2 linked regions of the Homo sapiens genome follow. The protein of the gene in region 2 interacts with the protein of the main gene of each other region in a pairwise test. Each region holds a gene or a part of one and is shown on either strand. Other genes may lie near its edges.

The links. The genes of interacting proteins can lie anywhere in the genome.
Region 1: the proteins of PSMB7 (region 2) and AFP interact in a two-hybrid assay, tested with the Homo sapiens proteins (one large-scale study listed by BioGRID and IntAct).

The regions. Positions count from the first base shown.
Region 1 is NC_000004.12:73,453,221-73,456,674, reverse strand, and holds the end of AFP (alpha-fetoprotein isoform 1 precursor), read right to left. Parts: intron 2,911-3,454; coding exon 2,778-2,910; intron 1,440-2,777; coding exon 1,395-1,439; 3' UTR 1,385-1,394; intron 1,045-1,384; 3' UTR 501-1,044; downstream 1-500. UniProt on the Homo sapiens protein: Binds copper, nickel, and fatty acids as well as, and bilirubin less well than, serum albumin. Only a small percentage (less than 2%) of the human AFP shows estrogen-binding properties.
Region 2 is NC_000009.12:124,401,943-124,405,442, reverse strand, and holds part of PSMB7 (proteasome subunit beta type-7 precursor), read left to right. Parts: intron 1-10; coding exon 11-126; intron 127-3,500. UniProt on the Homo sapiens protein: Component of the 20S core proteasome complex involved in the proteolytic degradation of most intracellular proteins. This complex plays numerous essential roles within the cell by associating with different regulatory particles.

The sequences.
Region 1 (3,454 bases), on a different chromosome or scaffold from region 2:
TCTGCTTAGCTATCACTGTGGTCCTCTGTTACTCATAAGATATTGTCCAACCTCTTTAGAATAGAGCGCTGAGAGTCTGGATTAGCCCTTCATAGCTTCCACATCCTGCCTAACATTCTACATCTCTACCCTTCCTACCTACCCTGTACTCCTCTAAAACTATTCATCATACTTTGTCATACCCAGTACCTCTGACCATGTTTCCTCTTTCATAAAATGGCCTTCTCTTTTACTTGAACTGATGAATGCTCATTCATTTTCTAAGACTCTTCTTAAACATTTATGGCACCTTTTCCAGTCAGAACTGATGTCACCCACCCTTTCGTTCCCTCAACAATTTGTTGTCAACTCCTTGTGGTCATAATCTGAGGCATCATTATTGTGTTGCTTCCTTCTCTACTGAAGCGACTGGAGAACAGTGACTGTACCCAGCCCAAGGCCTGGAACTCAGTGAAGGCTTAATAAACATTTGTGGAATAAAAATTTAATTGATGAAAACATTAATTATATTCAATCAAAACTGTAATATTCTTATGTTTTAAAATGTCTGTGAATAGAGAACTGAACAAGATTGAGAAAAAAAGTAGATGTTAAATTTTCTTAGATCCCATAGAAGAATAATAATTTCTTTTCTCATCTCCAGATTATCTGTTAGAATACTTCAGTGATGGTCATTTAATAAACAAAATGCCCTGGTAGCATCAAATAGTGTTTAACTTGGGAACATTTTTCAGTTCACCAAGTGATCTAGTGCTGTAAATCCATCCTTGGATAGCTTTAATCTCCTATAATAACCAACACTTAATGCTATTTTAACAGAATCTGCTTCAGACAATGGTATACAAAACTAAAGAAATTATCGATAACTTTTCATAAATAAGCAAACTTGGAAAAGGAAACATTTGGAGATATTTTATTTCTGTGATAAGGAAATCTCACATAAAAGTCTTTATCATTTCATTAATTCACAAAAAGTGTTAAATCAGTTAAAATTAAAGAGAAAAGTTCACACCGAATGAAAGACTCGTTTTGTCTTCTCTTCCCCTGCAATATGAGCAAAAATATATTAAATACTAATTAAACTAATAGGTGCAGTAAGTAACTGGTTCTATTATTTTATATCAGAGAAATATTGGATACGTAGGAAAGTCTTCTGATAGCATTTGTTGAAGTCTTTTAAATAACCAAAAAGGATTTTGCATAGTTGAGCCACTAATTTAACATTGTGTGCGTAATTTTGTTCAAGTGTTTTTAAAATAAACTTTTTTTTGAATTCCATGTATTTTTAAGAGAATTAATGGCACTCCTCATGATCTATCTCATTATGGATTGATATTTCTGGAGAAACAACATTGTATTCAGGCTTGTCTGAATGTTTTGTTACCTGAAGTAATTTAAACTCCCAAAGCAGCACGAGTTTTTGAAATCAGTTTTTGTCCCTGAAAATTAAGAATAAACATAATCAGATAAAGAAATGGATTATTATACCAATCATACAGTTAACACTCTACAATCCGGGGTGAATTCATAGGTTTGTAGATTAACTAAGTTAAAAATGAAGAAACACATCTCTGATGCCAACAACCTGGGATAGTAAAAGCCAGGGAGAAAACAATATTCTTTCACATCAACAGTTTTCTTCTATAACAATCTCCAAATCAATGCGTATTCTCAATCTTTCCCCTTCCTCTACAAATTACAAGTTATTAGAAATTAAAAGGTTTGCAGATAAAGCACTGCTACTATTTGTTCATGTTCTCTATATCTAAATAAATGTCTTCTCAGATTAGAGAACATTAATCTTCTTGTGTCATGTTTTTCAGAAATGCTTCACATCAAATCTGTTTCACCAGTTTTATCTAATTTGGTTATCTATGTCCCACCCTACCTGATCCCACCAAAAACACACACATATACTGGTAAGTGCACACACTCAAATGCATCTAATTATATTATTTATAGAAAAACTCTACATTTCTAAATATATCTGTCTTTGGATTTTACATGGTGAGAAAGGTAAAATTGACAAAAACGCTAAGTTATAGAATATCTTTTTAAAGTATAGTGTTGCTATATTCAAATATATGTAGCAATACAAACTAAAGATTTGTAAAATTTAGCCAATTATCTTGATTGTGATAATCATTTCACAATGTATAAATATATTGAAACATCACATGTTCACCCTAAACATATATAATTTGTATTTGTCAATCATGCCTCAATAAAGCTGAAAAAAGGTAATTTTTTTAAATGTTAGGTAGAATCCCCTGGTTAAAGAAAATCTGGCTAATTATCCAGCTAAAATTACTATGTAATTAAAATAACTCCTAAATACTACTCTGTTGATGTACAAAAGCAAGCTTCTAAATGAGTTCAAAAACATTTTCTACAAATAGACTCCTAATACTCTGTTTGCACAATTAATTTGCTATTAAATCCTTTAATCCATTTAGCTGAATTGATCAATTTTAGGCCAGAAACTATCTAAATTACCGTCAATTATTTACACATTCACTTTATGGGTTTCTCTACTAGGAAATAAATTAAAATTACTAATTCTATTAATATATTTTAATATTATAAATTTTCCTAATATTAAGCAAGAAAATGTGATTATTTTTTAAATCTTATAGAATCCCTCAATCTGCTTCTCAATGAAATTTAAATCTCTCTGAAAATATTTTAAAGTTATAAATTTGTAGGGTCTTCCTTTCATTATCCACTACAGAAAATTCCATAGCAAGTATTTTGAGTATGAAATGAGCTGCATGTACCTCTTCAGCAAAGCAGACTTCCTGTTCCTGGCCTTGGCAGCATTTCTCCAACAGGCCTGAGAAATCTGCAATGACAGCCTCAAGTTGTTCCTCTGTTATTTGTGGCTTTTGCTTCACAAGGTTAATGAGAAACCTGTGATTTAAAACAAAACAAAATACAAGAGAAGTCTGTTATGCAATGCTATTTTTCTACAGCCTTCCTAGTAGAGAATTTTCAGAGCCTAAACCCTTACTCCATCAACCTATCACCAGACTGACCACACACACCTTGTCTAGTACTTTCAGTAGAAAGATTGAGGCTGAAAGCATGCCAAGTGTTCCACCAGCCTGGAGTTGTGCAGGTTGTGGATAAAACACTATTTCATACTTGACCATACTTATGTGTAGTGGAAGGCAATCTCCCCTCATCCCCCAGGAATATCCTTTCCTGTCCGCTCTTCTTAACTGTGTCTTATCTACACTCAAAGACCCAGATCTCCGAATCCTGCCCATCCAGTTATCACACCCCTTATCTGGGCACTGGCAGCACTAATTGCCTGCACTGCTCACTTAGCAAGCCTTTCATGTTGGACTTAGACCAGAGCAATAGAAAGTAGACCAGAGCAATAGAAAAAGCTTGCCAGAACAGGCAACATTCTTATCATACTGTGAAACATACCTCAGACTGTGATAGAGGA
Region 2 (3,500 bases):
TGATCACCAGGTATCAAGGTTACATTGGTGCAGCCCTAGTTTTAGGGGGAGTAGATGTTACTGGACCTCACCTCTACAGCATCTATCCTCATGGATCAACTGATAAGTTGCCTTATGTCACCATGGGTGAGTGTAACGTTTTCCTGATGTTTAAGAGTACTCTTACTTACCACGATGGTCTCTTGAAGAGCTGGTCTGTTTTCTCTTAGAAGAGGAGGTGCAATACAATGCTTTGATTCATTCAGCAAATATATACTGAGTTCCTACTATAGATTAGGCCGTGTTCTAGGTGCTTGCTATATAGCAGTCAACACAATTCTGATAGTGATTCCTGCTCTCGAGGATTTTGTATTTTAGTGAGGGTAAATAGACAATAAACAACTGTGAGAAGTATATTTATAATACACAGGTATTCTAAATTAATACACAGGTATTATAAATATATATAAATATACACAGGTTATACAACCTGTGTATTATGAATATATTTTTATAGTCTGAAATCTGAAAAGCTCCAAAATCCTAAAGTTTTTGAGTGCTAACATGATACTCATTGTAACATTTTTATTTTTATTATTTTTTTCTTTTTTGAGATGGAGTTTTGCTCTGTTGCCCAGGCTGGAGTGCAGTGGCATGATCTCGGCTCACTGCAACCTCTGTCTCCCGGGTTCAAGTGATTCTTCTGCCTCAGCCTCCCAAGTAGCTGGAGTGATAGGCACACGCCACCATGCCCGGCTAATTTTTTGTAGTTTTAGTAGAGATGGGGTTTCACCATGTTGGCCAGGCTGGTGTCAAACTCCTGACTTCAAGTAATCTGCCCACCTCGGCCTCCCAAAATGCTTGGATGGATTATAGGCATGAGCCACTCTGCCCAGCCTCATTGGAGCATTTTTGATTCTGGATTTTTGGATTAGGGATGCTGAATTGGGTGAGTTATAATGTAGATATTCCAAAACCTGAAATCTGAAACACTTCTGGTCCCTGGCATTTTGGATAAGGGCTACTCAGCCTGTATTAGAAAGTGATACTAAGAAAAAAAGTAATACAGATGATATTGTACTATAGTTACACAAGATACTATCTTTGAGAGAAACTGAGTCAACTTCATATGGAAATGCTCTATTTTTTACATCTGCATATGAATTTGCAATGATCATAAAACAAAAAATTAAATTCACACATGATAAGGGGACTTGGGAGTTGTGGGCAGGGGCTGGGGTGGAGGCAGATGGCAGTGTTAAATAGAAAGATCAGGGCCAGGCACGGTGGCTCATGCCTGTAATCTAGTGCTTTAGGAGCCTGAGGTGGGAGGGTTGCTTGAGGCCAGGAGTTTAAGACCAGCCTAGGCAACATAGCAAGACCCGGTCTGTGCCACATATATATATAAGCTGAGTGTGGTGGTGTGTGCCTGTAGTCCCAGTTGCTTGGGAGCCTGAGGCAGAAGCATTGTATGAGCCCAGGAGTTTGAGGTTGCAATGAGCTGTGATCAAGCCATTGTACTACATCTTGGGCAACAGAGTGAGACCCTGTCTGTTTAAAAAAAAAAAAAAAAAAAATGTCAGGACAGGTCTTATGAAGAAGGTGAGATTTGAGTAGAATTCTAGAGTAGAAGCCTTACATTGAAACTTGGCAGGTACATTTTGACCTAGAGGAGTGATTGTGGTCCTTCTTTACTACTTAATCTCTGAGGGATTGGGGTATTTGATTTCTATCTGAACCTCAATTTCCTTACCTGTGAAGTGGTATTGGTAATACCTACCACACCAAGTTGTAATGGTTGGAAATAACGTATATAAAGCATGTGCTCCAATGCCTGGCCTGTAAATAGTAGTTATTTTTTTGCCCCCTCTCTTCCTCATTTGCTAACCAGCTTTTTGCATTTATGTTTTAGCTCTAGCTGCTAGATTAGGAGATTTTTTGACAGGCTCTCACTCTGCTGCACAGGCTGGAGTACAGTGGTGCAATCACAGCTCACTGCCACCTCGACTTCCCCGGGCTCAGGTGATCCACCCACCGCAGCCTCCTGAGTAGCTGTGACTACAGCCATATTCTGCCACACCCATCTAATTTTTGTATTTTTTGTAGAGATGGGATTTTGCCATGTTGCCCAGGTTGGTCTCGAACTCCTGGGCTCAGGTGATCTGCCTGCTCCAGCCTCCCAAAGTGCTGGGATTACAGGTGGCTGATAATTTTTTTTTTTTTAATGACTGCAAAAAATAGTGATAAAATTATATTTAGAAGAATTGGGATTTTCAAGTTCTAACATTTACATTATTGCTTCTGGGTCAAATTGCATAGGTCCAGAAATTCGAACAGGTTGTGTGTATCGTGTAGCTGGTGTTTTTCCAGCTGTCATTTACCTCTTAATATTTTCTGTCTTGGTGTCTTGGCTCCACATCTAGGAAAACTGCTGCCTTGAGTAGTTTGGAAATTGCCAGTTTGAGACTTTGCTATGCCATTGTGTTGTTATCTAGCCTCTTACAAGGTTTTTATATAACAGATGTTCACTGTTTGTTGGGGAGAATGATTTATCCCCAGATACCATACGGATGAATCTTTGCAGTTATTCTAAAATGAAGATACTTATGGTAATTTTAGAATTGTTCTGAATTGCTTTATTCAAAGGTATTAGGTATCTCCATCAAAGTATTGCTTTTATTTCTCCCCATCTGATACCTTTAAATGGTGGTAAAGGTGGAATAACCTTTTCTATTAAGTAGTTTTTATTTTTTCTTTTTTTTACTTAAATTTCAGACTTGCAGAAAAGTAACAGTAACGTTCAACAAACACTGATCTGTCCTTTACTCAGATGTGTCAGTTGTTAGCATTTTGACACATGTGTTCTGCCTCTCACACACACATTGTTATTCCTATCATTGTTTCGTGTGCGTGGGGAACCATTTGAGGGTAAATAGCAGGCACCACAGCCTTTCACCTCTGAATCCTTCAAGATGTTCTCTTCTGTCACCTTGATAAAGTCATCAAATTTAAGAAGTTTGACATTGATACAAAGCAGCTTCATTTGTAAAATGGGAAAATTGGTTTCTCTTGCCAGTGAACTGTGGTAATTTGTGTCATGAGCATAAAGCTGAATTAGGAAAAGTTGTTGAAAGTGAGTAGGTAAACAGCTTTGTGTCTGCCCATTTTACTTCTGCCGCCCAACTTTGTGCTTTTTCCTGGCCAAGAGTGACCTCCTGTCTGTCCAAGTCTCATTTGAGTTCCGGGTGATGGGTCCACAGCTCTTGAGTTTATAGAATAATTCTATTTAGAAACCACTGACTCCACACAGACTGGTTTTGCTGCCCTAAAATGCCAGATTAAGGAGAATGAGACATCAGTAACATCTGATTTTAATACCCAAGTAAATTGTTACTTTGAGGTCTTGTTTGTTCCTCCACTCATTTATCAGCTTTTTTTTTTTTTTGAGACTGAGTCTCGCACTGTCACCCGGTCTGGTGTGCAGTGGCATGATCTCTGCTCGCTGCAACCCCTGCTTCCCG